Linked DNA regions of Homo sapiens. The main gene of each other region encodes a partner of the protein of the gene in region 4 in a complex. Each region holds a gene or a part of one and is shown on either strand. Other genes may lie near its edges. The genes, in order: EXOSC9, EXOSC7, EXOSC6 and EXOSC1.

Region 1 (8,760 bases), on a different chromosome or scaffold from region 4:
CAAACTCTAGGCCAGGCACAGTGGCTTACACCTGTAATCCCAGCACTTTGGGAGGTCAAGGTGGCAGAACTGCTTTAGCCTAGGAGTTCGAGACCAGCCTGAGCAACACAGCAAGACCCTATCTCTACAAAAAAAAAAAAAAAAAAGTTTTTTAGTTAGCTGGGTGGAGTGGCACGCGCCTATAGTCCTAGCTATTCGGGAGGCTAAGGAGAGAGGATCTCTTGAGCCCAGGAGTTTAAGATTACAGTGAGCTATAATGACACCACTGTACTCCGGCCTGGACGAGAGTGTCACCCTGTCCCTCAGAGAAAATAATGAAAGTTTTCAAAAATTAAAAAAAATTAAACTTTTAGGTTTTGTGATATTTTTAATAACCTTACAAGTAATGCAAATAGGAAGTATTATGCTTAGGTATGGAATATGGGAAGCTAAATGACTTCTCTGGGATGAAAATGCTTGTCAAAATACCCTAATCAAGAATCAAATTCTGGCCAGGCACAGTAGCTCACGCCTGTAATCCCAGCACTTTGGGAGGCCAAGGCAGGTGAATCACTTGAGGTCTGGAGTTCAAGACTAGCCTGCTGGTGAAACCCCATCTCTACTAAAAATACAAAAATTAGCCGGGCGTGGTGGCAGGCGCCGGTAGTTCCAGCTGCTCGGAAAGCTGAGTGGGAGAATCGCTTGAACAGGGGAGGCAGAGGTTGCAGTGAGCTGAGATTGCACCACTGCACTCCAGCCTGGGCAACAGAGTGAGACTCTATCTCAAAAAAATAAAACAAAATAAAATAAAATAAAATTCTAATATCCTAATGCAGCACAATTTATTGGGACTAAGATTTTCAAAGTTATCCCTGCCACTGACATGGTGTGGCCCTGTGTAAATCGATAAACCTATCCAAATGAAGGATTTCATCTGTTCTTGAGTTCTGCATGAAAAAGGAAAACTACCTGCTTCTATGAACTCATGTAGAAAATGAGAGATTATATGAAAAAGCCACAAGTTCTTTGAATAAAATATTTTTACACAAAAATCTAAGTTGCTATTTTCACCCTTTTAAGATAAAGGGTGAAAACCTTTTAGAAACCTTTAAGAAAAAGGGTGTCCTCTGAAGGGACACCCTTTTTGTCCCTTCAGAGAGAGAGAGGTAGCACAAAGTTCTAAGGGTATCACTCAAGAACATCTGAAGTGAAGCAAACCAGTACAATACTGAGTTAACTAAAGTTCTGAGAATAAAAGGATAGATACCGGGATCCATGATCAACAGTATTCATCCTAAGATTAAGAATTATGGGCATATTCCCCACCTTTTCACCAGCAACAACACAGAGAGACTCAGTGTCTATACACTTCGAATTTCTTAGACATCTTTCCATGAGTCGATTCAACTTCACCAAGAGATCTGACTGCCTATAAGGAGAAAATAGGAATGGGCTAATGTCATGAAATATAACACCAGGTATTAAAACAAAAGCTCACTGCTGTTAGGTTCTCCTATGACTAAAGCAACTTAAGAAAAAGATTTAAATACCTGCCAGGTTCGAAAGCTGGAGCGGCCATCTGAGAGAGTTCAAGGTTAAAAAAAAGAATACCTTCTGTTGCCCGATTGAGTTTTGGAGACACAAGTTCACAGGAAACCTGTCCAAGAACTCTGCAAAGATAAAGTTACAAAGTATTAACCAAATAGACTCTCCTTCCAAAACAAAAAACTGAAACAGATAACAAGTTTCAATCTTAATGTGAGTAATATCATACTCAGCCAAATAAATCATAGGAGATAAAAATTATATGTAAAGTATAATATACACAGAAATAAAACATAAATTGGTACAACTAAAAACACGACAGAAAAAACACCTCTCTTCTTATTACAATGTTTACTATTCCACAGATTGTTTTAAAAATCAGTGACCTTTACCTCTAAAGCAAGTATTTATTGATACAAGATGGCATGAAAACCTGAGATTTCTTAAAGGTTTTCACATGGCATAGTTCACCACCATTATGTGACCAAATAGCCTCACAACTTTCAAATGAATATCTGAAAACCTAATTTTCATGTCACTCAGGAAAAAGAAAGCAGGATGTACACTTAATGACAAGATGCTCAAGATCTCTATATTAGTGTGAGAAACAAATTCCATATGATCACTACTAGTTGTCTATACGATTTATAGAAGTCAGAAAAGAACTATGTGATACGTGACAGAAAATACGTTTATGATTAAAAAGTTCAAGTGTGACCACAAAAGCAAAAAATCTCGCATAAAAAAATACTTATTTTTGTCAGCTAAACAAAGAATACTGTCCAGACTTCTTAGCTGCTTTATAAACAACCAAGTCAATAAGGTCTTTTTTCAAACTTCTCCCTTCCGAATGTGTATCTCATTTAAATCCTGTTACCTTGTTTTTCCAAGTTCCACAATGCAGCATCCGTAATCTGTTCCAAATGAGATCCTGATGTTCCTATAATCATAGGTTTGTCTGCCATCCAGCCGCTGTAAGCACAAATTCATTCATTAATTTATTCCTTCAACAAGTATTTCTTAAGCAACTACTTTTTGTCTGGCCCTGGGCTAAGCACTTGGGGGAAAGTGGAATCCTAACCAGCCCGCCCATACAGGAAAGTGGAAACTACAGCATGGACAACTGCTGCGGTGACTGGAGCCTTGAAAAGAACCTGTCGAAAAAAAATAAATAAAGCCTGAGGGATGGGGTGAACGTGCCGGTCGTTCCCCTAGTAGCTCCCCGGGCCCAGGCGGGCCAGGTATCAGTCCACACCTTGAGACCCGAGCGCCCACGCAGCGCGCAATTCTGCGGGCACCAAACCATACCTTCTTCTCTTCGATGGCACGGAGTAGGAAGCGGCGTTCGCAGTTTGAGAGTGGCGTTTCCTTCATGGTGTTGGGTCACCGGCCCCACAGGCACCAGAATCCGCGGGAAAAACGGAACCCGATCTTTCCTTGCGCGCCGCTGCTCGCCCCGAGGCGCAGGAAAATTACGTCATCAAGGCGCGGCGGCGGAAAAATGGGAAATGGCTTGGGCTGCAGCTACTGCGCAGACTCAAAGCGTGATTGGGGAAGGCCAGCGAGCTGCGAGAAGCCATTGCGGCTTTGGGAGGCCGTTTCTGAACGTGAAGTTCCGTTTCTTTTCTCATAAAGTGCAGAGGAGAAAAGGATACTTAAAATAACCATGAGAGTGATAGAAATTATTATCAGTAGACCGCTCGCACACTTCACCCTTTGCTCAGTCCTCTCACGGGGTGGAGACTAGACATGTACTTCTGCAATTTCACAGATGAGTTGACATTGGTCCCTGGAAAGCCGCAGATGCAGGATTTGGAGCAGATTAAATGAACAAACACTGGAATGAGGCGGCATAAGGGTTGGGGGAGAAAGATAAATTGGTGAAATGGGATGTTTTTGTGGCCAAAGGTGAAATCTTGTGGGATCTGAGAAGTTGATGAGAATGGAGAATGTTCGCACGTAGTAACTAACGATGTTACTACTACTGTGGACTGAAAGTAAATGCACCGTTTATTTCTTATCCCCTCTCCAGTTATTTTAAGTCGATAGACTTTTTTTTACGGTCACAGAGAAGCCTTAGCGGGGCCATGCTGCCAACCACTCAGCTTTTTTGGAGAGGCAGTATCAAATAGTAGTTTTAAAAAGTGTTCACTGCCAGGGTTCAAATTTTAAGGCTATCATTAACTACTATAACCCTGGGCAAGTTAACCTGTGTGCTTCACATTACTCACCGGCAAAAAAAAAACAAAAACAAAAACAAAGCAGGGGAAGTGAGAAACCTATTTATTCTGAGGAATAAAAATGAGTTAATATATACATAAAATGTTTAGAACAGTGCCTGGCATGGAATAAGCACTATTTAAGTGTTTGCATATTATTATTTTGTTTCCTTTTGCTTTAGAGGTGGTAGGCACTGTAACTCCTACGCAGTCTTTCTCTGGCTTCTTTGGTAGCTTCTCACAAGTTTTTTCTACCAGTGATACATTTTAGTCTCACTTTGTACCACTTGCAATCCATGTACTCAATAAATACTTGAAGAGGGCCTACTCTGTCCAAGAATAATTTAAGTGCTGGAGAAACAGGGTAGACAAGATCCTTTCAAGGAATTTATATTCTTTTTGGAAAAGGCAAAAAACCCTAAACAAATAGAACAATTTCATACAGTGTTAAGTGCTCTCTGAGAATAGGAATGCTATCTTAATAGGGGTAGTTGCAGGAACAGGTGACTTTGTAGCGGTGACATTAAAGTAAAGTAAATCTTTGGTGTTGAGCAGGAGCACCCTTGATGCCATCTGGAGAGGAAAAGTGTTTCAAGCAGAAAGAGTAACATATGCAAAAACTGAGATGAGATGAGCTCCACATGGTCTGGAGAGAGAAATTGTGAAGAAGGAGGAAAGTGGACAGAAATGATTAATTTTCAAAATCGGCAAGGGGATTACAGGGTACTAACCACTTAAGTTCTTTAGCAACATGAATTCATTTTTATAGTACAGTTTCATACCAGAACTCCTGGTTGATAAGTTCTTCATTTAAATCCTTGAGTTCTTTCAGTGGCCATTTGGTAATTTTTCCCTTCAGCGATGAAATAGACCTTTGTTGAAATAGCCTGTTATTTACTGCAAGGCAGCTTGGTAATGGAAAGAGAATGGACTTTGGCTTCAGATAAAGTTCAGCTCAAATGAACTTGGAGTGAGCTAAATATTCTTTCTGATTTGGGGGTTCTGTATCTTCAGATTGGAAATAACAATTATTCTGTGTTAAGTGGTCTGAATGAAAGCATCTGATGAAACATTTTGGACATGATAGCTATTCAAATGTTAGTTTCCTCCTTTCTTGTTGGGTTGGCAAAGGCTTCCCATGAAACTGCCCAAACTCAGCATGACAGATTGCTTTTCTGAAACTGCTGCTTGATTACTTTGCTTTCCTTCCACTTTTGTTGAATTTCCACTGTTCTTTTCTACTTTCACTTTTATATTCTAATTTAAACACTCTTGCTTTTGTCTTTTTATTTTCGAGTTAATCCAAAGGTGTATGACCCATCTCCACTTACATCTACATACCATCCTAAAATATATGTACTTTACAACCTTGTGTTTATAAGAAATTTTTGAATGCCAAAGGAAAATTTGTTTCATGATTTCAGGGAAAAATAAGTTTGGAAGGTTAAGAAGAGGTTCAGATAATGTGTCAGGTAATGTGATACATTCTATTATTTTTTTTTTCTTTTTTGAGAGAGTCTCACTCTGTCACCCAGGCTGGAGTGCAGTGGCATGATCTTGGCTCACTGCAACCTCCACCTCCCAGGTTAAAGTAATTCTCCTGCCTCAGCCTCCCAAGTAGCTGGGACTACAGGCATGCACCACAACGCCTGGCTAATTTTTGTATTTTTAGTAGAGATGGGGTTTCACCATGTTGGTCCGGCTGGTTTCAAACTCCTGATTTCAGGTGATTCGCCCACCTTGGCCTCCCAAAGTGCTGGGATTACAGGAGTGAGCCACCGCACCTGGCCTCACCTTCTGTTCTTAAAAGAAGAATCAGTTGGAATCAGCATATTAATCTGGATGATCTGTCTAAAAATAACCTAGTTCTCAACAAACTATTTGAGTGTGCATTCTCTTTATTGAACATCAGTTGCTTTGTCTGACCAGCAGCCTTCTATTTCTTGGAGAAATGCCCTTTCCTGACCCCATGCGATTCTAGTGAGCCAATACATTTGAGTTGGTCTTTGTAAAAGTGTGTCCGAAGGAATTCTAGTACATTTCTACTAGAGTATAAAGTCTATGTCTTCTTCACCTTTGTAGCACCCACTGAGACTGGTAGTGTACCTTGTGAATCAAAGGATGAATGGCCTACTTAGCACATCTGGTGAAAGAATTAATGGGTGGAGGCCAGGTGCGGTGGCTCACGCCTGTAATCCCAGCACTTTAGGAGGCCAAAGCAGCCAGATCACTTGAGGTCAGGAGTTTGAGACCAGCCTGGCCAACATGGTGAAACCCCCGTCTCCACTAAAAATACAAAAATTAGCTGGGCATGGTGGCACACACCTGTAATCGCAGCTACTCAGGAGGCTGAGGCTGGAGAATCGCTTGAACCCAAAAGATGGAGGTTGCAGTGAACTGAGATTGTACCACTGCACTCCAGCCTGAACAATAGAGCAAGAATCCATCTCAAAAATAAAAAAAGGCTGGGCACAGTGGCTCATGCCTGTAATCTCAGTACTTTGGGAGGTCAAGGTGGGCAGATCACTTGAGTTCAGGAGTTCGAGACCAGCCTGACCAACATGGTGAAACCCTGTCTCTACTAAAAATACAAAAATTAGCCAGGCATGGTGGCCCACACCTGTAATCCCAGCTACTCGGGAGGCTGAGGCTGGAGAATCACTTGAACCTGGGAGGCAGAGGTTGCAGTGAGCTGAGATTGTGCCACTGCACTCCAGCCTGGATGACAGAGTGAGACTCCATCTCAAAAAAAAGAAAAAAATGGGTGGATGAGTGAACAAATGAAAGCTTACCATTTTATTTACCATATATCTGCTGTACAATTTGTCTGTATAGAATTTGGTGTACCAAAAGTTATCCTGGAAGGGTATAATATGAAATATTAAAAATGGTTATCTCTGAGTGATAGGATTTTGGGAAAAGGTTTTTATTTCATTTTGCTATTTTTTCTTTATGAACTTTCCAAATCTTCTGTAAGGCATGTGAATAGCTTTTATTATCAGAAAAAGTAAAAAGTAAAAAGGTGTTATGTTTTCTTTTTATTGTTTGGCCATACTTAGCTAATTTTTTTATTTAAGGGAATTTTGACTTTCAACTACATTTTAACAAAGACATTTGTTTTGTTTTTTTTCAAGATTCAAACGGGAAACCACTTATCAGTTAATATGTTGAAAAGATTTTATGTATTGACAACTGAATATGTCAAATATAGTGCAGGCCTGGCGCGGTGGCTCACGCCTGTAATCCTAGCACTTTGGGAGGCTGAGGCGAGTGGATCACAAGGTCAGGAGATTGAGACCATCCTGGCTAACATGGTGAAATCCCATCTCTACTAAAAATACGAAAAAAATTAGCCGGGCGTAGTGGCAGGTGCCTGTAGTCCCAGCTACTCAGGATGCTGAGGCAGGAGAATGGCGTGAACCCGGGAGGCGGAGCTTGCAGTGAGCCGAGATCGCGCCACTGCACTCCAGCCTCGGCTACAGAGTGAGACTTCGTCTCAAAAAAAAAAAATGTAGTGCAAATTTCCCTCGCATATGTTTTATGGGAATTATAGATTTTTAAGTCCATTAGATTATCCAGTCCATCTCTAGCTTCCTTGGATATTGAAAAGAGCTTTTCCTTTGACTCTGATTATATCATTTGTTATGTCCAGGAAGCTATATTATTATTATTAAGGCTTTACAATGTATTTAGAGGAATAAAAAATTATCCATTTTCAGCTTATCAAAAATACAACAAATTAGAAGATAATTCAGGGAAGGGACATTTTCATTTCACTTAGATTATGCATATGGCTCTATCTTGGACACATCACTGATGCCCTTGGATTTGTTCTCATCTATTAAAAGAAGATTCATGCTCATCGATAGAAATCTGTAGGAAATTATATTGTTTAATGTCTAAGCAATAAATATGATCTAGAAAAGTTGTCACTTAGTTTTCTACAAATAAAATAAGTGGAATTTGCTATTGTGAATTAAACTAATTGTCATGTAAATAACTTATAGTGTTGTATAGTAAGCAAAACAATGGCCTCTTTTAAAGATTTCCACATTCCAATCTCTGGAAACTGTGAATATGTTGCCTTATATGGCAAAAGTTATTTTGCAGCAGTGATTAAGTTATGGGTTTTCAAATGGGGAGGTTATCCTGGATTAGCTGGGTGAGCCCAAGAAGGAGGCAGGAGAGAGAGACCTGGAAATTTGCATTTTTAACTGGCTCTCTGGTGATGCTGATGCTGCTGGGCAGTGGATCACATTTAAAAGTGGCAAGAGTTTGGATAAAGATGATTTCTGTTCAGTAGACCTTTTGGAATTTATAAATAGGAAGAGTTTAGGATCAGTAATCTGGCCGAAAGGGACTGAAGAACTCAGAAGGCTGCATTTGCTTGGTAATCACACTGCGTTTACTTAGAATGAGAGTTTATTTGGATGGATTGAGGGTGATAGAGGTTATGAGAGAGGAACTAAACAGGCTAGCAAGCTGTGTTTTGTTTTTCTCTCAAAGAGTTTTAACAATATTTGAATCCTTTTGGCAGGGCATATGTTGAAGGCCAAAAGAATGAGGGTCATGATCAACTCAGCATACAACTGAAGGCTATATGAGTAAACAGCAAACTGTTTCTCATGAAAGCAGGATGTTGGCAAACTGACAAACTGCATCTGCCGCCCAGAAGGAATGCTGAGGGGAGTCACAACCCAGGCACAGGTGTTTCTTGTGGTTAGGCACATGTGAAGCCTGTTAGCAATAACGTGAACCTGTGATCAATCAAGCAGCTGACCAATTGTTACCTCCTTCTCCCTGCTCTTTCTACCCGATAAATACGAAGGGCTGCAGAAGCTCAGGGGCTGCTGCCTTTGCTCACTAGAAGCAAGGAGCCCTCTTCTTTTTCCCCTGGTCCCTTCCTTTAAAACAGTTTCTTTTGTTTTAAGTTTTCATTTCTGCATGCGTCCGTTTTCGTTCAGTCTCGTAATGACAGTCTCAAGTAGTGACAGTAGTAAGTCTTGTAATGACAGTC
Region 2 (8,351 bases), on a different chromosome or scaffold from region 4:
AGTTGTGGGAAATTGTTTACTGAGCTGGATAAACTAATTAAGATCCTGGGAATGCTACCCCTCCCAGCTCTCCACCCCTTCTGACTCATCACCTCTACCCTCCTGCTTGGAACATCTCTGGTTTAACTGGGGTAGGCTGAGATCAAGGCCATGCCTACCTGGAAAGGGACTCTAGACACTGGGCCCACTGTTGCTTGCCTGGCAATCAATCTAGCCTACAAATCTATGAAGTCTTACGTCCAGGTCAGGCCAGGCCCACAGCAGAAAAAGTGATCTAGTGGGTACCTAGGCAGGGCTGACCTGGGCCTTACCCCTCCAGTAGTCATCTAGCCCCAACACAGGCCCTAAGGCTGATTCCTCTGAGTGTACATGTGCTCATGTCTGAGCCTGTAGAAGCCTCCCTGTAAATGGGTACCAGACCAATAGTAAGTATATTCTGAGGTTTTCATCACAAGCCTTTGTTTGAAGTGTCTGCGAGAGTTATCTCATCAGCTTGGGAGACTTTGATTACAATTAGCCTCAAAAGGCTTCTGCAGGTTGCCTCTCTGCTTTGTACCCACCCCCAGCCCCTCAGCCAGGAACAGTGTCCCCTTTAGCAGCACTAAGCAGGCAAGGAACCCAGATATAGTGACTCCAACCACCAATGCAGGCTTGAAGATTCTGGTTCAATTTTAGTGAAAAATACAAGTGTTCACATTGAAAAATAGTTAAGATCCCAAAGGGAAGTGACAAGTGCGGAGTATTCTGAAACATTTATGAATGAAAAATGTTCTCCTAAACTCCCCTAGTTAAAAACCCAAGCCTCTCTAAGAGGTTAAACCACAGTCCTAAACCCATCAACACAATGGTCGGAGAACTGAGAAGCAACTTGATGGCTCGCCGCCTAGTGGCAGCGCAGGGTGACACACCAGCTCACTAAAATCTTCCCTTCCTTTGGGCTTTAGATAGAAACCACCTTTTCCTAAAGTTTCCAAATTCTCATTTAAAATAGCCTACTCTCAGCTACAACCAGCAAACCAAAGACATGAAAAGGTCAGATTTTGCTCCCAGTTTAGTGACAGTGCTGCCAGGCATCTCTGGAACAGGGCTCAGGGTCAGTGCAGCAGTCTTTCCAAAGGGCTGTGAGGGCTATATCAAAGATTTTTCGTCATTCCCAAGAAACAGGGTAAATTATGGAGGTGGCGACAGTGTCTATCTTGGCTCCATGTATTATCATCCCAAGTAGACAAAACCAAGTGAAATGGGTTGGCAGAAAATCAATTAGTTTTCTGAGACCTCTCTACCCCTGGCAATTTAATTAAAACTGGAAGTTGCTAACAAGAAGTTAAATCAAACTAGACTCAGAGCAGCAGAAGAAACCCTCACCACCATCACCACCACCATCACCACCAATTTATTTCCTTCCACTGGGCAGCAACTATGTTTCAGCCTGTGGATAGGCAAATGCCTTGAGCTCTCCAGCAGAGGCCCTATGCCTGGAGTCCAGGTGGGAGTGGGTGTGTGGCACCCTTATTGCTGGGCACATCCACGGGTGTCCAGAAGCCATTCCTATTCACTGATTCAGAATAAAAGGACACACTTGTTTATGCAATTAAAATAATTATGCTCCTTGAAGACTCAATTGAGGTTCTGATACAGGTGGCAGCGATCAGTGCTTGGTAACCTCTCCCATCTCTGTAGGAAATGGGGTTTTGTGACTCTCTCATGGTGATTCTACTTGCCCGGCTGATTACATTAGCTGAGCCACTTAAAGAAGGTAAAGTGTGCCACTTTGAGACTGTCCATCTTGAGAAATCAATTCAGGAGAACTACCTAGATACTGGAGCTCTTGGGCCTGTGGGGATCCTTTTGAGACCCACAGAGGAGGAAAAGAGACCAGCAGGCAGCCACTCTAAGCCAGGAAAGATAGGCTACTTCTAGAAGCCAGATCTTGGGAAGAGGCAACTCAAAGAATCCTCTCACACTAGAGTCACTCATCCTTTACAGCTGGGACAAGAAAGGGATAAGAGCAGCAGGCTAACTTGGAGTCATATTTAGACACAGAGCCACAATGAAACGTATCCCCTATACCAAGCATCTGAGGGCAACACCCTCTCTTTGGTGTGGTTGGGCTGAATGTCTTTGGTCTGCCTAAAATGAATGAGGTAGAAGGTAATGAAGGAGATGAAAAAGAAAGCAAATTACAGTTCCTCACACATTGTCTGCTCCTCAGTGACTGCTTACTGCATTGAATTAGGCAGATCAAGGCCACCAGAGGCATTCTGCTTCCTCCAAGAACAAAGGAAAAGATAAGTTGGGGGCTTGAACAAGGTCACCATCATCCACAGTGACTTAAAGGATGGGCCAATTCCATGGGACAACTCAGGCTGGTGAGAGAAGATGAGCAGAACCAGGAGAGACGACTTGGGGGACCAGAGTAGGGGACAGGAATGGGCTGGAAAAAAAACTGACCAGAAAAATGAACATGGATAGTTCTTGGACTCCCCAAGAGCAGCCCTCCAAAGCTGGCTTCCATAGGCTGCATGAAGTAAAATGAGCAAAGATTCACAGGTTGGACAGACCTGAGCTGGCATTTTTAGCTTTGTAACCCTGGGGTAGTCACTTACTCTCTCTGAACTCATTTGTCATTTCTCTTATACGAGTACTATGAGAATCAGCTTCCGTGTATGGAAGTTCAGACTGGAAGACTGTAACTCACCCTACAAAAGTGGGTTAACATTTGTGCAAAAAAGGGCTGCCATTGCAGTCCAAAGGTGCTATTTTCAGAAGGGTCTGTTTGCAGGGTTGGCCCTTGGCTGGCATCCGGGAACCTGGCTCCCAGGCAATAGTAAACTGATGGGGGTAGTCCACTGTGCCTATATTGTGCAAATAATATGATTTATGCTGAACATTTGCTTTCCTTTAGAAAACTTCATTATGTATTAAGCATCGAGTGTCTATGTGACCAGCTCCCAGTAAAAATCTTGGGTGCTGAGTCTCTAATGGGCTTTCCTGGGCAGAAATGTCACAAATAAGTTACTGCATTTTCACTGCTGTAATAAACCTTAGCTGTGAGTATCACTATATGCTAAGTCTAGCAAATCTCTGAATGTGGAGGTGGTCTTGGGGATCTTGATACAGGGTCAACATTATATACCTACACCCAGCATGAGCCCACAGAGATCCTTACCCACTTCAAGAAGGCCTGGCTTCCAGAAGCAAAGTAATTGATAGAAGACGGGACCTGGCCAGCAACCAAATAAAAAGCCCCGACCCCTAGAATGTGGAGCTAATAATACTTATTGAACTTATTGACAAAATAAGGAGAAATAACACTTATTGAAAGCCCACTGGAAGTCAGTCACTGTGCTAGGTACTCACTCTATTCATTTCCTCTTCATCACCATGGTATTATTTATTATCCTCATTTTTTAGATGAAGAAATTTGGCCACAGTGAGACTGAGTAACCAGCCTGAGATCACAAAGCTGGCCAGAGAAGGAAGTGACATTCTGGCCCAAGGCTGGCTGCAGACACTGCAGAGCCCTCTCTCTTCTCAGCACCCATACTGCCTGCCTAGCTGCCACTTCCTCAGCCTGTCAGGCTGCTTGGCTGACCCTAGGCTTCATCTGTCAAGCAAATCATGAACAGTTTTCTGCAGAACTAGAGTAGGAAGAGAAACAGCACATTTTAGACCAAATGATCCTTACTGTGTATATTTTTCAAAGCACCATAACACAATCATTTCATTTGACCCTCATCACAATCATGTGCTAGGCTGCCTGGCAAATGTCCTCCTTTATCGGACAGGGAAAACAAGGCCAGCAATAGCCAGGTGGTTAAGACTAGGGCAGGACTCAAGCCAAGAGTCCTGACTATGTACCTGGCACATAGGAGGAGGTCAGCAAATGCCTGCTGGATGGCTGAATGATAAGTATAAAAGTGGGTTCAACAGCAAACCAGAGGTTCATTTTCTGAATCTTCATCTTTAAAATCATTTATCTTTAGAAATATCTGCATAGACAGTACTGACCAGTCAACAAAGAACTCCAAGTAGCCTTCATTTGGTTTCTCCAGCTTCGGCGTCCCCATTTCTGCTTTCACTCCCACCAAGATGTCTGTGTGACCCTGCAGACACATGCAAGAAGAGTCCTCACTCAGAGTATGCAGCCAGGTACTCCACCACCTCCCTCCTCTTCTGGACATACACCCCTGGGGGACTCTTTTAGGAGCAGTGCTAAGACTTGGAAAGTGGTCTTTGGAGGAGGTGAGCAGTCTTTTCAGATCTGGATAGACCCCCCCTCCCTGAGTTTGGCTCGGATCTTCGATTTCCCCAAGAGCAATTTGCATTCCAAAAGCCAGACAGCGTCAGCAGCTCATTCCTTAGGGCCTACTCATTTCTCCACCTGGGCTTGAACCATGGTCACAGTACTCACCAGCTTGACCCTGGCGGACCCACTAGTGTTGGACACCACATCAGTTTCCACTTCGACACATCGGTAGTCCTCACAGCCACGGCCATCCACACGGAGGTCTTCCTAGGTGTTAACAACCACAGTCCTATAGTCACCCCAGATCAACAATAACTCCTAAACGGACTCACCCATTTTCCCCCTAGAGAAGATATATGCAGAATATCTCTTTTCCTCTTAGTGGATCATCTAAAATTCTGTCCTTGTAGCTAACAACAACATTACTATTTTACATATGAGGAAATGGAGACTCAGAGAAGTTGAGCGACTTGTCCAAGGTCCTACAGCTAGTGAAAACAAAGCTAGTTTTCCATGCCAGTTGTGTCTGATTGCAAAATCTATACTACATACCACTATATAGAATATGCACACAAAAACAAGATCTGAACAAGAGACAAAATAAGCCACCTCTCTCTAAATCTGCAATTCTTAAATTGCACCAAGAAGTATATGTTGTCAGAGCTACAGAGTACAATCATCTCAACTGAAGCCCTCCTACCCCTAAAACTCAACAAGATCTACTGTGTAAATAGTGAAAGACACCTAATCTTCTAAAGAGGCAGTCTCTAGAACAGGGTCAACAAACTAAGGTCCCTTGTTTTTGTAAATAAGTTTTACTGGAACATAGCCATGCCCACTTGTTTAGGTAATGTCTATGATTGTTTCTGCACTACAAAAGCAGAGCTGAGTGGTTGGGCCAGAGATATGACCCATAAGGCCCCAAATCTTTACTATCCAGTCCTTTACAGGAAGTTTGCTGACTCTTTTGGCAGAAGATGGTTTTCAGGGTGGTCTACGCGCTGCCTGTTCCTTCTGCCCATTTATTTACTCCTTCAATTACTTGTATCAGTACAACTCATTGGTATCTTTTATGCTATGGTTATAATCCACTACTATCATTAGTTATTTTGCTGCTCAAAGTGTTCCAAATTTGGCCACTGGGGGCTTCTTTGGGTTAGTTTTTGTGCTCTTTCAACATGCCTCCAACTTTTTGAGTAATTATCTACTTTCTGCAACACAAGATATCTATCCTCTTGTGTCTTCTCTGCCCAGCCCTAGGGATCAAGCCTTTCTCCAAGGAGCCCTGGTTGCTTTTATTGGGGAATGGTACTTAAAACCAGGAACTAGGCTCTAAGTTCATTGCTGTTGGAGTATTATTTCTTCCAGAACTTCTCAGCAGACAGAGCTAGAAAATACAGTTATGTATACTAACCACCCCCACCACACACACACAAATCTGTTTAATTCTGTATCTATCTACATATCTATTAAAAAGCCAAGAGTTCATACTGATAGATCAATTCCAATCTAACATCACATGGTTCATTCTAACCTTCCTCTGTTTCTTATTTGTAACTTCTTTCTCAAAGAAGGAGAAAGCTGGCTCTTATTATCTAACATGTATTTCTGTATTTGTTCAATCTTAGTATACACAGTTTCTGAACTTCTAACCCATACCCCTGTGAGAAACAAATTTACTAATAGCACACAGTATTTGTGTAAAGTTCTGTCTTTAGCCTCAGAGTATCCAGGCAAAATACTGTTTTCCAGTTACTTCAGTTCTTTTCTTCTACGTGCCCTTCAGTGTGGTTACATTACTCACTTGTAACACAGGCTCATTTGTAACTTGTAACTTTTTTTTTAGACTATGGCTCTGTCGCCCAGGCTGGAGTGCAGTGTGGCACAGCTCACTGCAACCTCCGCCACCTGCGTTCAAGCGCTTCTCCCGCCTCAGCCTCTGAAGTAGCTGGAATTACAGGCACATCACCATGCCTGGCTAATTTTCATTTGTAAATTTTTGTTTTCCATTTTGGGTTCCCCCACATCATGGTTACTTTTAATTACTTATTTACTTTCTGAGTTTGTGAGCTATCACTATAGTTCTGAGAGAAAACTCAGAAAAGTATGCTCAGAGAAATGTCACTCTCCTCCGTATTATGCTATTTTCATGCCCCTTTCTTCCCATTCACCCTAGGTTTCTCTTCAGTTTCAGGTTTATCTTTCTTGTATTTTCTCTGCACAAATAAGCAAATACATGAATTTTTTAATATCTCCTTGTTTCTTATATGAAGGGTGGAATACTATAGATACTCTTACTTTTTTTTTTTTTTTTAACACTTAACTATATATATGCAGGAAATCATTCCACGTTGGCTCATGGAGCTCCTTCTCATTCTTTGTAAACATTTTTCAAAAGCAGTTTTTTTCAGAAAAAGAATCATTAGCTTAATCAGATTCTCCAAGGAGTTGATGCTTCCCAGAAACATAAAAAATAAAATAAAACACTGCTCTAAAGTATGTGACTGACAGTTTATCTTTAAACTGCCTGGCTAACTGCATATGTGACTGACTTTTTTGAGAAATTAAACAGAAAAAAGCAAAACACTGCAGCACCACACAGTACCAATGATCACCCTCTGCCATACTTGCTTCAGGTCTTTCACCCGTTTAACTTTTCAATGACAGAAAATAAACATCACAAATCAGGTGGAAGGTCCTGTGCAGCCCATCCTTCCCCCAGCACCTTTCCTCCCTGGAAGATATTGAGAGGTGACAGCGTGCTGGCAGCCCTCACAGCCCTCGCTTGCTCTCGGCACCTCCTCTGCCTGGGCTCCCACTTTGGCAGCACTTGAGGAGCCCTTCAGCCCGCCGCTGCACTGCGGGAGCCCCTTTCTGGGCTGGCCAAGGTGGGAGCCGGCTCCCTCAGCTTGCTGGGAGGTGTGGAGGGAGAGGCGTGGGTGGGAACCAGGGCTGCGGGCAGTGCTTGCGGGCCAGCGCGAGTTCTGGGTGGGCATGGGCTCAGCGGGTGGGTGTGGGCTAGGCGGGCCCCATACTCTGGAGCAGCCAGCTGGCCCCAGGCAGTGAGGGGCTTAGCACCTGGGCCAGCAGCTGCTGTGCTCAATTTCTTGCTGGGCCTTAGCTGCCTTCCCACGGGGCAGGGCTCCGGATCTGCAGCCTGCCATGCGGGAGCCTCCCCGCCCTCCCACCCCCACCCATGGGTGCTCCTGTGTGGCCCCAACCTCCCCAAGGAGCGCTGCCCCCTGCTCCACGGCGCCCAGTCCCATCGACCACCCAAGGGCTGAGGAATGCGGGTGCATGGCAGGGGACTGGCAGGCAGCTCCACCTGCGGCCCCAGTGCAGGATCCACTGGTTGAAGCCAGCCGGGCTCCTGAGTCTGATGGGGACTTGGAGAACCTCTATGTCTAGCTAAGAGATTGTAAATACACCAATCAGCACTCTGTATCTAGCTACTCTGGTGGGGACTTGGAGAACCTTTGTGTCTACACTCTGTATCTAGCTAATCTACTGGGGAGGTGGAGAACCTTTGTGTCTAGCTCAGGGATTGTAAACGCACCAATCAGCACCCTGTCTAACAGACCACTCGGCTCTCTGTAAAATGGACCAATCAGCAGAATGTGGGTGGGGCCAGATAAGAGAATAAAAGCAAGCTGCCAGAGCCAGCAGTGGCAACCCGCTTGGGTCCCCTTCCACACTGTGGAAGCTTTGTTCTTTCGCTCTTTGCAATAAATCTTGCTACTGCTCACTCTTTGGGTCCACACTGCCTTTATGAGCTGTAACACTCACCGCGAAGGTCTGCAGCTTCACTCCTGAAGCCAGCGAGACCACGAACCCACCTCGGGAGGAATGAACAACTCCAGGTGTGCCGCCTTAAGAGCTGTAACACTCACCATGAAGGTCTGCAGCTTCACTCCTGAGCCAGCGAGACCACGAACCCACCAGAAGGAAGAAACTCCGAGCACATCTGAACATCAGAAGGAACAACTCCGGACACGCCGCCTTTAAGAACTGTAACACTCACCGCGAGGGTCTGCAGCTTCATTCTTGAAATCAGTGAGACCAAGAACCCACCAATTCCAGACACAATATCCCTATCTTGAGT
Region 3 (4,155 bases), on a different chromosome or scaffold from region 4:
GACAGAGTGAGACTCCGTCTCAAAAAAAAATTTTTTTTTCAAAATATTGCAATGGGCTTGTAATTTCTGCTTAAATGTCAGGAGGTCTGAGCCATTTTAAAATAAATCTAGCACAATTTAAGATTTTTTCTTAACCAAAATTTTAAGAAACAGCTTTCTATATACTCACCTCAGCATATGCTTCCATGTCTTCTAGAAAATGACCAAGAAGAGTCGTAGAAAATGCAAGATCAGCTACCCAAAATGGCTCCAAACTCTGCAACCACCCTTGGAATCGTATAAGAAATTGTGAAAGGGTGGGGGGAGAAAAAACACCAAAAAATCCAAATTAAAAAAATATAAGAGGCTTGTTTTAAAAAGTATCCGGTTTTCAAGCAGCATACCCTAAAACATGTCCTATATCATAAAATTAAGACTGCTAAACATGCTGATCACGATTAACCAATACCTCTTTAATTAATACCTCTTTAATTTCTGCAAAAATTAACATGTAAATGTTATTTCCTTACTTTTTCAGTAAATTTCCTATCTATATTGTCACTACACATGACTTAACACTAAAATGCCACAATCTACCATTGGCCTGGCTAATCCCAGGGCCACATCTAACCATTAAAGGTGTATACTTATCTCCTCAGTGAAAATGAAACAGACCACTATCACCTGAATATCCTATTTTCAAAAGTTTATTACACCAAGTAAGTTACGAGAAACTATGACACTTGAAACAAGCTGAAATGTGCAAATGAGCCATGCTAGTCATTCACTTAACTCCAAAAAAATGGGAAACAAAACCATTTCTCATTTATGACAATTCTCCAAATTAACCCTATTTCCTTTTTTAAAAAAATAACCAGAAAAACAATAAAATGTTACAAATAACTTGGATCTTCCATTGTCCACTTCAGGGTATTGCCACTGCAATATATTCTTACCATATACTTTTTCCTACCAGTACAAACTACAAATAACTTGGGTAAGTCCTGTCTGTACTTATTCTACCCACCTACTAGTAATTTCTTCTGAAAATATATATTTAGCTAACAAGTAATGTTCATTTACAATATAACATTTCTCTGAATTAGTTTTCTTGCATTATTAAAGAAATGTTATTGATAGATGGTCACTGGGGGACCACTGCTCCTCCCCGACAGTATTTAAATAACTGGTATAGGCTGCAAGACTTACCAGATACCTGCTGCGTGAGCGAAGGTTTCTGAGTATGATCTATATGCCATCCAACTAATATATCAACTGTATCCTTGATGGAAACAAAGAGAGAGGGGGCCAATCATTTTAAGATATTACTGCCATTCACCTGTGGACCATTCCACAGCAAAAGATCCTAAAAGGAGCATCTATGTTCTACCTACTCAACATTCTAGAAACTTAGAAAGGGGAGAGGGGCAGGAAAATAAAAGAACTACATTTCTGACAACAATGAAATAGTTTATTTTCTTCAAATATTTTAAGGTACGAACGTCAGAAATAAAAATGCAGCATTTAACCCTGGAACCTCAAATATCACTGATTATACTCAAAGGAGCAGAGGCATTGTTTTCCATCTGATTCCTCAGTTCCTCACACACACAACCATCCCCCTCACCCCATGATCTGAAAAGCGAAATGAGGAATTCACCCTAAAATTAGTGTGGAGAAAACAAGCAAATTAGGTTATTTACTAAGTGACTACATAAAAAACTGAGTATGAGACCAAGAAAAATAGATTCTGTAGTTTTAGTTAAAAAAAAAATTGACTTGTAAATCCCAACTACTCGGGAGGCTGAGACACAAGAATCGCTTGAACCCAGGAGGCAGAGGTTGCAGTGAGCTGAGATTGCACCGCTGCACTCCAGCCTGGACAATACAGCCAGACTCCATCTCAAAAAAAAAAATAATTAATAAATAAATAAAATAAATATACTGAAAATATTTCACTCCACTAAGATGTTAAGCTAAAAACAAATACTGTTTTCTCTTCTTCAATGTTTGTTAACATTAGTCCTTAATAACATCTGTTTACAATATCCCTAAATGCTCTCTTTAAGATTCCACCTGTGATTAAATTTCAAATACAAAAAAGTAAAACGGATTTGGGAAACTTTTCTATAAAGTACAGCAATTAATTTGCAATCCAAAATATAAAGCAAATTTTATATAATTTATGCTTTACTATATTAGTACTTGCTTCACATTAAAATTAAAGATCAGTATGGCACCACACATGAATAACATGCAGGCTCAGGTTACCATTATACATAAATTTTTAAAATAAATATATGGCAAAAATAATAATTGTCATTCCATTGAAAGAATATTTATTTTGCAGCTGTTAAAAGACATTTTTCCCTAAAAAAAGAAAAGCTGTGCTTTACATAGCAATCTTATAAAAGAAATGCTAGAATCAGAAAACCATCATTTTAGGCTGGGTGCAGTGGCTCACACCTGTAACCCCAGCACTTTGGGAGGACGAGGCAGGTGGATCACTTGAGGTCAGGAGTTCAAGACCAGTCTGGCCAGCTCGATGAAACTCCGTCTCTACTAAAAATATAAAAATTAGCAGAGCACAGTGGCACCTGCCTGTAATCCCAGCTACTCAGGAGGGTGAAGCATGAGAACTGCTTGAACCTGGGAGGCGGAGGTTGCAGTGAGCCGAGATTGTGCCACTGCCCTCCAGCTTGGACAATAGAGCAAGATTTCGTCTCAAAAAAAAAGAGAAAAAGAAAACCATTATTTTGCAATAGCCAATGTTATAATCTACACAGGCACAGACTATCAATGCTAAAAATCATTTAAAAGACATCTTAGGGGTAATTACAGAAATTTGAATATAGAACACATATGTAATAAAATTCATTTTCTTAGGTATGATTACAATATTCTTGTTATACAGAAGAAAAACCTTATTCTTGGGAGATGCAAACTAAAACATTATGGGTTGAACTGTCATCATGTGTATGGTTTTCAGATGCTCAACAAAAGTGTGTGAGAAAATAAAACTGGCAAAATATTAGTAACTGGTAAATCTAGGTGAAGCATATTATTATGAAATTATTATCGTATTTACAGGTATTTATTTTACTGGTGCATCTATCTTTCTATGAATGTGAGAATTTTCACAAGAGCTGGGAAAATGTTCATAATTATGCATGCAGAATAAGCCCAAGCTGGTGGCATTCTGTTCAGTTACAGGTAATTTTCTGAATCTTCCCTCAAATTTTTCTCAAACCTCTATAATCAAGGGGAAAAATGTTTTGTTTTGCTTTGCTTTTTTGAGATAGGGTTGCCTATAATGGAGTGCAGTAGCTTGACCATAGCTCACTGTAGCTTCAACCTCCCAGGCACAAGCGATCCTCCTGCCTCAGCCTTCAAGTAGCTGGGACTACAGGTGCATACCACCATGCCTGACTTATTTTTTTTCCTTTTTTTTTTTTTTTTTTTTTTTTGATAGAAACAGGGTTTCACCTTGTTGCCCAGGCTGGTCTCAAACTCCTGGACTCAGGCGATTCACCAGCCTCAGCCTCCCACAGTGCTGGGGTTACAGGAGTGAGCCACCATGCCCAGTTAAAAATACACTTTTTATTTAAAAAAAAAAGAGAACACTCCTTATATTTCCTTTATATTTTGTAAACTACATACCCAAAATAAAGCATATCAAAAACTGTAAAAAAAAAAAAAAAAAACCCTAATATCAGATATTCCAGACACAACAATACCATAATTTAATCACTTAAAATCTTACTCAAAACTAAATCAATGATCTTTTAGGCCAGGTGTGGTGGCTCATGATAGTAATCACAGTACTTTGGGAGGCCAAGGCAGGAGGATCACTTGAGGTCAGGAGTTCAAGACCAGCATGGCCAACACAATGAAAATCCATCTCTACTAAAAATACAAAAATTAGCCAGGCTAATGGCACACTCCTGTAATACCAGCTACTTAGGAGGCTGAGGCAGGAGAATCGCTTGAACCTGGGAGGCAGAGGTTGCAGTGAGCCGAGATCATGCCACTGCACTCCAGGCTGGACAACAGAGCAAGACTCCGCATCAAAAAAAAAAAAAAGATATTTTAATATATTCAGATACACAAATATGAAATAAAACTAAGTAGAGCTGGTATTCATTTACACATAATTATCTTATACCGTTTGGAATA
Region 4 (9,351 bases):
TGAGAGACAGAGTCTTGCCCTGTTACCCAAGCTGGAGTGATCATGGCTCACTGCAGCCTCAACCCCCTGGGCCCAAGCGATCTTCCTGCTTCAGCCTCCCAAGTAGTTGGGACCACAAGCATGTGCTACCATGCCTGGCTAATTTTTTATTCTTCTTCTTCTTTTTTTTTGAGACGGAGTCTCACTCTGTTGCCCAGGCTGGACTGCTGTGACGCAGGCTCACTGCAACCTCCACCTCCTGGGTTCAAGCACTTCTCCTGCCTCAGCCTCCCGAGTAGCTGGGATTACAGGCATGCACCACCACGCTAAGCTAATTTTTGTATTTTTGGTAGAGACAGGGTTTCACCATGTTGGCCATGATTGGCCAGGCTGGTCTTGAACTCCTGACCACAGGTGATCTGCCCACCTCGGCCTCCCAAAGTGCTGGGATTACAAGCATGAGCCACCATGCCCGGCAATTTTTGATTCTTTTTGTAGAGATGAGGTTTCACTATGTTTCCCAGGCTGGTCTTGAACTCTGGGCTGAAGCAATCCTCCTGCCTCGGCCTCTTAAAGTGCTAGAATTACCAGTGTGAGCCACTGTGCCCTGCCAGAAATAAATTTATGTAGCTTGTGGCTATCATACTGGACACTGCAGTTCTGGTATGGTCATGATTTCAGTATTGAATGGGCATTCTAAGCATGGAGGTCAGGACCAACTTACCTTACAGGTTACAATAGCTCCCACATCTGGCAGTAACTGGGACTCTGTTTCTCTCACTACAGACACCACTGGAAGCTACAGAGGGAACAACAAAAAACTGAAATGTCCTGACTAACCCTTGGGTCAAGGCATTTGTGGCTTGAGAGTAATATAGGAATGTCTTGGTATAAAGGTGAGAGTTGGAGTATGGATTCATTTATAGCCCAGAGCAGAAGGCCTTAGAAATTTTAGGAAATAGGAGGACCAGGAGGCTACAGAATGCTGCTAGAAGACATACATCTCTAAACTTCTTTTTTTGTTGTTGGAGACGGAGTCTTGCTCTGTCGCCTAGACTGGAGTGCAGTGGCACGATCTCGGCTCACTGCAAGGTCCACTTCCCGGGTTCACGCCATTCTCCTGCCTCAGCCTCCCGAGTAGCTGGGACTACAGGCACCCGCCACCATGCCCAGCTACTTTTTTTTGTAGTAAATCTCTAAACTTCTAATAAGTTTTTTGGTGATTCTCTCAGAATTTCTTGGTATACAACTATATTGCCTATAATCATTGACAATTTTACTTTTTTTGTTTTTTTTTGAAATGGAGTTTCACTCTTGTTGCCTAGGATGGAGTGCAAGGGTGCCATCTTGGTTCACTGCAACCTCCACCTCCTGGGTTCAAGTGATTCTCCTGCCTCAGCCTCCCGAGTAGCTGGGATTACAGAAGCCTGTCACCATGCTCGGGTAATTTTTTGTATTTTTAGTAGAGATGGGGTTTCACCATGTTGGCCAGGCTGGTCTCGAACTCCTGACCTCAGGTGATCCACCTGCCTTGGCTTCCCAAAGTGCTGGGATTACAGGTGTGAGCCACTGCGCCCTGCCGACAATTTACTCTTTCCTCCAAAGTTATACTGCTTCCTTCTGTTTCTTATTTTATTGCACAGGCTGAAATTTCCACAAAAATGTTACATAATAGCGGCTATGCTTGTTTTCTTCTATTTTAAGTGAATACTTGCAGAGTTTTCTCTTTGAGCATGGTATTGGCTGTTGGTATAAGACAGATATTTTGAGCCTCATCTTTTATCAATCTCTCCGTTGCTCACAATGCTTCAGCTCTCCTGGCCTTCTTTCAGTTTCCCCAACTTACTAAATTCTTCCCACTTTCAGATCTCTCTTCAACCTATTCTTTCTGCCAGAGCTGCACTCTCTCCACCCACCTGACTCTTACCTACTCTTTAGATGATTCAGCTTAAATGTCACTTCTGCTGACTAGGATGGGTTTGCCTGTTACATGTTCTCAAGGTGCCCTGTAATATTCTTTCAAAGCACCACCACATATGTAACCATATGCTCATTTGAGCATTTATTTGTTTACAATTTGTGTCTGTGTCCTTTGATAGCAGAAACCAAGTCAGCGCTGTGCCTGACACATGAAAATACTCAAGTGATATCTATGAAATGAACAAACTCAGGACTGTTAAGAACATTCCCAACAATGACTGAATAGAAAGCCCCTTGAATCAGACAGCTTAAGTTACTTACTCAAAGCAGAATCAAAGTCAAGTTAGCCAGAACGTAACTGTTCTAATTCTGAATCCTCTTTCTATTGTGCTCCTTCAAATATTGCTTATATGATCCTGAGCTAATCCTGGATCTATCTCTGAAACTAGAAAGGTAGGTATTACTCACACATTCAACATTTATTGAGGAGCTGCCTTGTGCTATATACGGATGGTATGGTGGTAGGGCCTGCTTTCACGGACTTAGATTTAAGCAGGGGAGAAGTCTAGTAGGAAACATATACCTGAGTGTCTCATCATATGCTGACATAGTGCTTGGAAGAAAAGGAACAGAGTTTTTTGTGAGTCTTTAACAAAACAAACAAAAACAAAACACCCCACAAAACTCCTTTCCTCAATTAGTGGGTCCAGAAGGACTTCTCTGAGGTGATAGTAGAGAAGCTATCTAAAGGAGGTAGGAATTAAATAGGCCTAGGAAGATAGAAGCGTTCCAGATAGATGGCATGTTACAAAGGCTCTGTAGCAGGAGAAAGCTTGGCGCATTACCGACACTGAAAGAAGCTAGTATGTTATAAAAAATTTTTAAAGGGCAAGCAGAGACTGTGATTATAACTTTTAAACACAGAAAAGACAGTATGACTAGATTGCGTCAGTGAGGTGGAGATAGTGGCGCTAGATAAAGTCGGAAAGGTAAGCAACATTCATACAGTATGCAACTCACTGCTGGGCTGAGCTGGGCTGGGATGGGATACTGAGTTCGCATCTGCTTTTGTCCCAACTTCCCTCCCCGAGGGTCAGCAGCACAACCAAGCGAGATCAACACAACTAGTGTGTGGTGGCTAAGTGCACCACAGCGGCGATACGGCTAGAAGAAACTAAGAGACCAACATTGTACCACTGAGGCACTAAAGACGCGTCCGCAGTGCCCATGCCTAAGGACTGGAACTCAAGGGCAGCCTAAGGGAAAAACAGAGGGGAGATGGCATGCCGCTTCCTTTACCGCGCCATTCTCGCTGCTCTTCATCAGACAGCCGGCAAGCGACGAAAAGATGTAGCCGTGGCGGGTGTAGGTGCCGCTGCCCGGGCTGCCCTCCTCCAAGTTACACAGACGTTCGCCTGCAGAAAAAATGCTGCATCGGTCACGGGCCCCCAGAAGCTGTAGGCCGTTTAGCCTTCTTGCTTCAGCCCCTATCCAGGACTCTGTACGGGAAGCGCTCACTTACCGGGGATGCAGTATCTCACAGGTGGCGCCATGATTGCCGCTGTCCCAAAACCAGGATGAAAACGAAGTCGATTTCTCATTGGCCAAACCCAGGCACAGTTCCGCAGTAAGACACGTGTCAATTGGTACTCTTTATCCTTGCGAGTAAACTCCATTTCCCAGGTTACCCCGGGACAAATCCGGGGGCGGAACTTCAGAGGTCCACGCTGGCGCCTGCGCGTGTGGTTGAGGATGGGCTGGCGGCGGGTCCGGGTCCGCTGCCTGGCGCTGCGGGCGGCGGGCCATGGTGGTTTGGATTGAGCCGGGCCCGGCCGGGGCGCCGAGTCGGAGGGGGTGGCAGTGAGCGGCGGCAGAGGCTACGGGGCTCGGTTTGGCTGACTGGGGAGTCGGCAGGCGGCAGGTAAGGGCGAAGCCTCGGCCCTTGCTCCCCATCCTAGTCCCTTTTTCTGGGTAGGGCACTGCCCTGGGGCCTTGTCTTGAGTGCGGGTTCCTGCTCTCTCCTCGCCCCGCCCTGCGGGGCCGTGCCCTCCTCAGCCCGAGCGCACCTTCCGAGCAATCGTTACGCTCAGAGCAGGAGGGAAGGAGGTCAAGCGACCCAACTCGTCTGTTTCACAGATATGGAACCTCAGATTCAGAGACAGGGTTTGACTTGTCCAAAATGATCAAGATAGTTAAGATAGAGCCCAAACTGGAACCCACGGTTTTTGACTTCCAGTCCATCGCAGTTTCACCTCGCGGCTGTCATTGAGAAATAAAACCTTTTCCCGGTTTTTTTGTTTTGTTTTTGAGGAGTCTCGCTCTGTCGCCAGGCTGGAGTGCAGTGGAGCGATCTCTGTTCACTGCAACCTCCGCCTCCCGGCATCAAGCGATTCTCCTGCCTCAGCCTCCCGCGCAGCTGGGACTTACAGGCGCGCGCCACCACGCCCAGCTAATTTTTGTAGTTTTAGTAGTGACGGGGTTTCACCATGTTAGCCAGGATGGTCTTGATCTCTTGATCCGCCCGCCTCGGCCTTCCAAAGTGCAGGGAGTACAGGCATGAGCCACTGCCTCCGGCCTTTTCCCGGTTTTTTAAACTGCAGCTTCCAGTCCTGCGGTCCGATCCTCTTCGCGGCCCCTCATCCCCACTTCAGTAAGCTTTCTCTGGTTGAAAAAGCCGAACTCTGGTTGTGTGGGCCCGTCATCAAAAGATAAGCAGCCCCAAAATAAAGTTGTTACTCTTTTTCTTCTCAGCGTGTTAGCCCAGAAGGGAGGTCTGCACATGAATAAAATGCTACTCTTTATTGATGTTGGGTATCTCCTACTTGAGATTGCAAACATCCTGAGAGCAGCGTCTTTGTCCAGATGACATTCGCCACGACTTTGATCTCAGTTCACCTGACTTCTGATGGCTTTGCCGTCTGTCCTTCCCTGTCCCCTCAGTCGACTTTCCCATTGGGAAACAGATGTGACTTAAAGCCATGGGAAGAGGGGAGTGTTGTGGCCAGCAATCTCCTCCAGTCTGGTGGCAGATGACCAGTATGGCCTGTGACTATTACTGAAGGATCAGAGTACTCGGGCTTGTGCTTGGGGTGGTAGTAAAGCTGCGCTTTGCTCTGTTTCCTCCCGTTCACTGAGATTAGCCCCTTCTCCCCTACACACATCTTTTTGAATTTTGCTTTACTTCTATTTCTTGAGATGAAAAGTCTGGGCCAGGTGCGGTGGCTCACGCCTGCAATCCCAGCACTTTGGGAGGCTGAGGCAAGCACATCACCTGAGGTCGGGAGTTTGAGACCAGCCTGACCAACATGGAGAAACCCGGTCTCTACTAAAAAAATACAAAATTAGCCAGGCGTGGTGGCACATGCCTGGAATCCCAGCCACTCAGGAGGCTGAGGCAGGAGAATTGCTTGAACCCAGGAGGCGGAGGTTGTGGTGAGCCCAGATTGTGCCATTGCACTCCAGCCTGGGCAACAAGAGTGAAACTCCATCTCAAAAAAAAAAAAAAAGAAAAGTCTGTGTGTTCAGTTGCGGCCCACTTACTACATATGTAATTTTCCTGGCATCCCATACCCCATTAGCTAATGGAGAGAGGCCCTAGCCTCAGACTTTGTTCACCCAAATCTGTATCTGTGCGTCTAGGAGCTTTCTGTTTACACGGTTGGGCTGATTTCTGGTTGGGCTTGTTTTCAAAAACGACTTCTAGCTCCTAAGTGCCATGATTTTAATAACAGTTTGTATTTCTCTCTTTATGAATCAGGAAGAATGATAACAGCAGACACTTATTTAGTGTTACCACATTGGCAGGAGTGTCCTTGCTGGTATTTGTAGGACAGATAGACATCTGGCCAGGCTTTCCACTTCTGCATCCCTCCAGGTCATTCATTCAACAAATATTTATTGAGTACTTCCATGAGCCGGGTATTGTGCTAAGTGCTTTATAAACATTTCATTTACACTTACCAAAGAAGTTTGCTCTTCATACCTGTGGGTTTCACATTGCTGATCCAATCCAACCATGGATTGGAAATATTTGGGGGCAGCTGGGCATGGTGGTTCGCTCACACCTGTAATCCCAGCACTTTGGGAGGCCAAGGCAGACAGATCACCTGAGGTCAGGAGTTCAAGACCAGCCTGGCCAACATTGCGAAACCCCGTCTCTACTAAAAATACAAACATTTGCTGGGCGAGGTGGCAGGTGCCTGTAATCCCAGCTACTTGGGAGGCTGAGGCAGGGAGAATTGCTTGAACCCAGAAGGCGGAGGTTGCAGTGAGCCGAGATCTTGCCACTGCACTACAGCCTGGGCAACAGAGCGAGACTTCATCTCAAAAACAAACAAAAAAAGTGTTTATGTGTAGCATTTACTTTGTATTAGGTATTATGAGTAATCTAGAAATGATTTAAAGTATATGGGAAGATACGTATAGGTTATATGCAAACACTATGCCATTTTATATCAGATTTGAGCATCCATGGATTTTGGTATCTGAAGGGAGGACTGGAACCAATCCCTCCGCAGATATGGGGGTTGACTGTATCTGTATAGTTACAGAATCATAAAAGGTTAGAGCTGGAAGGGACCTTAGCATTTAATCCTACTCCCTCACTGAATGTGAACACAAGGAGATTGAGTCCCAGTAGAGTTGAATGATTTGTCTGAGGTTACGGAACTGCTTAGGGACAGAATTGAACCCTAAAGAATTGGGTAAATCTGGTCTTTGAGGCAGACATTTCCTGCAGCGCTGAAGAATTTAGGACATGTTTAAGAATGATCTGAAAAGTGGAGAATAGAAGTTTTTTTTTTTTTTAAGACTAGAAGAGGTGTGAGGTAGTATATAATTCGAGTTTATTACAAACAAGGAGTGCATTGGATTTGCATGCCATTGCTACAAAAAGTATTTTGGCAAATAGGAAACTCTCCATGACCTATAGAAAGGGAATGAACAGCAGTGTGGACAGTCCAAAAGCCACCTAGATTTGTTGTGGGGTAATCTGTTTTGTCCCACTCTTACATTTGATTGTGGGTGTCTACTATTTTAAAAATTCATGCTACAAGCCAAATCATGCTTCCAAACAATAGGGGTGGAAGTTTGAGCGTGAGCTTTTAATTTTTTTTGAGGTGGAGTCTCACTCTGTCTCCCAGGCTGGAGTGCACTGGCGCGATCTTGGCTCACTGCAACCTCCACCTCCCGGGTTTCAGCGATTCTCCTGCCTCAGGCTCCCAAGTAGCAGGGATTACAGGCACGCGCCACCATGCCCAGCTATTTTTTTGCATTTCCAGTAGAGACAGTGTTTCACCACGTTGGCCAGGCTGGTCTCAAACTCCTGACCTCAAGTGATCCGCCTGCCTCGGCTTCCCAAAGTGTTGGGAGTACAGGCGTGAGCCACTGCGCCCGGCCTTTTTTTCTCTTTTCTACACTCCCCTTAATTCTTTTTTTTTTTTTTTTTTTTTGAGACGGAGTCTCGCTCTGTCGCCCAGGCCGGACTGCGGACTGCAGTGGCGCAATCTCGGCTCACTGCAAGCTCCGCTTCCCGGGTTCACGCCATTCTCCTGCCTCAGCCTCCCGAGTAGCTGGGACTACAGGCGCCCGCCACCGCGCCCGGCTAATTTTTTGTATTTTTAGTAGAGACGGGGTTTCACCTTGTTAGCCAGGATGGTCTCGATCTCCTGACCTCATGATCCACCCGCCTCGGCCTCCCAAAGTGCTGGGATTACAGGCGTGAGCCACCGTGCCCGGCCTCCCCTTAATTCTTTTAGCTTCCTAGGAGGTGGCAGGAATGGACAGTTTCTTTATCCTGGTGCTGAGCGTAGGTCCCTACTGAATTGTGCCTTCTCCTTCTCTGTGGACCTTGTCTGCTGAGTTTCTTTTCACCTTAGGGCTTACAGGGCTTGTGCAAGGAGGTAATTAAGTGTTTTCTTTGAAAGGTCTTTTGTGGGGATGAGCCAGGGTGCAAGGAGAGTACAATACTCCAGTTACCGAATTGAAACCATCCCTGCAGTGGAGCAGCCTCCTCCAGTTTCTGTTGGGTTTTGAGCTACCTGTTAAATAAGTCAGTGGGATTGTCAAGGACAAAGCCCTCCCTGGCTGCCTCAGGGCAAAATCAGGTAATTTTTTTTTCTGGTGAAAGTCTTTAATCTGCAGAACTGATGAAACTGTCATCGAAGGAATCTGTTAGCGCATCTGTGTCTTCTGTTCTGGTCATTGCCCAGGCAGCCGATCTCTTCCCATGGCTGTTGCATGAGGTAGAAACTGCATAGAGGAGATGGAGGCACTGGCAGAGGTGCCATAGAAGCAGTGAACTGGGAAGTCTGGTTGGGTATCTTGGGGCTAAGGCAGCAGCTGCAGAGAAGGTTCTTAAATGTCTAATTAGACTGGGGCAGTGGAGTCCATCAGAGAGGTCAGGACCCGAGGCCTTCATGAATCAACATGGAGGTCCCCTCCCATTGACTCCTTCCTGTGTTCTGCTCAGAATACCTGGAGTTGTCTTGGCTACCATTTCCTTGGGGTGGGGCTGGGAATGGAATTGGAGACAAAGCATTTTCTGTCATGCAAGGGGTAGCTGGCTGTCCTGACAGGAGACAGGGAATCTCCTGCTACCAGGTTGAGTTGGCTAGCCTGTGACATCAGCCCAGAGGGAGTAGGAAGAAGAGTATCTTTTGCCAAGACTTAAATAGCACCAGGAAATACCTCGGTACAGGATCCACATTCTGTGTACTCATTCTTCCATTGGCTGTTCTTTGGTGAGGAATAATCATCTGAAGGTAGGTTGATGCACTAGGGCAGTCAGGAAGCCCTGGCAATCTCTGCTACAGTGGCCATGCCCAGAGACACAGTGGACAGCTTTGTCCATGTTGGCCACACTCCACCCAAAAGTCTGTCTACACAGACAACTCCTAAGACTGCTTTGATTTGGAGTGGCCTTTCTCACCCCTTTCCTGTGGCCTGTTGCTTTAGGTGTGCATCACCTTGGATTTGCTATGCAACCATGTGGTGTAATTTAAGTACAATTTCTGCAGGCTCAGAACCATCAGTTTTACTCCCTTAATCTGGTTGGAACATTGGCACTGGTCAGTCCGTAGAAAAGTGAAGTAACCTTCCTACTTCTCACAGTTGGTGACTGGCCTAGCTGGGTCTTAGTCTTAGGTCTTTGCCCTCCAAGTGAGTACTCTAGGCCTTCCCACTAGCGGGGTAGGGAGGGAGGGCTCAGACTAGATCCTCACAATGGTGTGCTCTCGTAGGAACCATGCGAGGCCAGCGGAGCCTGCTGCTGGGCCCGGCCCGCCTCTGCCTCCGCCTCCTTCTGCTGCTGGGTTACAGGCGCCGCTGTCCACCTCTACTCCGGGGTCTAGTACAGCGCTGGCGCTACGGCAAGGTCTGCCTGCGCTCCCTGCTCTACAACTCCTTTGGGGGCAGTGACACCGCTGTTGATGCTGCCTTTGAGCCTGTCTACTG

The links.
Region 1: EXOSC1 (region 4) and EXOSC9 share a complex: the UniProt entries of both Homo sapiens proteins name them as parts of the RNA exosome core complex.
Region 2: EXOSC1 (region 4) and EXOSC7 share a complex: the UniProt entries of both Homo sapiens proteins name them as parts of the RNA exosome core complex.
Region 3: EXOSC1 (region 4) and EXOSC6 share a complex: the UniProt entries of both Homo sapiens proteins name them as parts of the RNA exosome core complex.

What each region holds. Positions count from the first base shown.
Region 1 is NC_000004.12:121,795,563-121,804,322, reverse strand, and holds the start of EXOSC9 (exosome complex component RRP45), read right to left. Parts: upstream 3,001-8,760; 5' UTR 2,899-3,000; coding exon 2,833-2,898; intron 2,497-2,832; coding exon 2,402-2,496; intron 1,650-2,401; coding exon 1,530-1,649; intron 1,409-1,529; coding exon 1,306-1,408; intron 1-1,305. UniProt on the Homo sapiens protein: Non-catalytic component of the RNA exosome complex which has 3'->5' exoribonuclease activity and participates in a multitude of cellular RNA processing and degradation events.
Region 2 is NC_000003.12:44,985,305-44,993,655, reverse strand, and holds part of EXOSC7 (exosome complex component RRP42), read right to left. Parts: intron 4,517-8,351; coding exon 4,415-4,516; intron 4,107-4,414; coding exon 4,012-4,106; intron 1-4,011. UniProt on the Homo sapiens protein: Non-catalytic component of the RNA exosome complex which has 3'->5' exoribonuclease activity and participates in a multitude of cellular RNA processing and degradation events.
Region 3 is NC_000016.10:70,245,350-70,249,504, forward strand, and holds the end of EXOSC6 (exosome complex component MTR3), read right to left. Parts: 3' UTR 1,429-4,155; downstream 1-1,428. UniProt on the Homo sapiens protein: Non-catalytic component of the RNA exosome complex which has 3'->5' exoribonuclease activity and participates in a multitude of cellular RNA processing and degradation events.
Region 4 is NC_000010.11:97,442,534-97,451,884, forward strand, and holds the start of EXOSC1 (exosome complex component CSL4), read right to left. Parts: upstream 3,474-9,351; 5' UTR 3,453-3,473; coding exon 3,422-3,452; intron 3,315-3,421; coding exon 3,199-3,314; exon of another isoform or gene 2,962-3,198; coding exon of another isoform or gene 2,920-2,961; intron 779-2,919; coding exon 704-778; intron 1-703. Other genes in the region: palmitoyltransferase ZDHHC16, read left to right, coding at 9,143-9,351. UniProt on the Homo sapiens protein: Non-catalytic component of the RNA exosome complex which has 3'->5' exoribonuclease activity and participates in a multitude of cellular RNA processing and degradation events.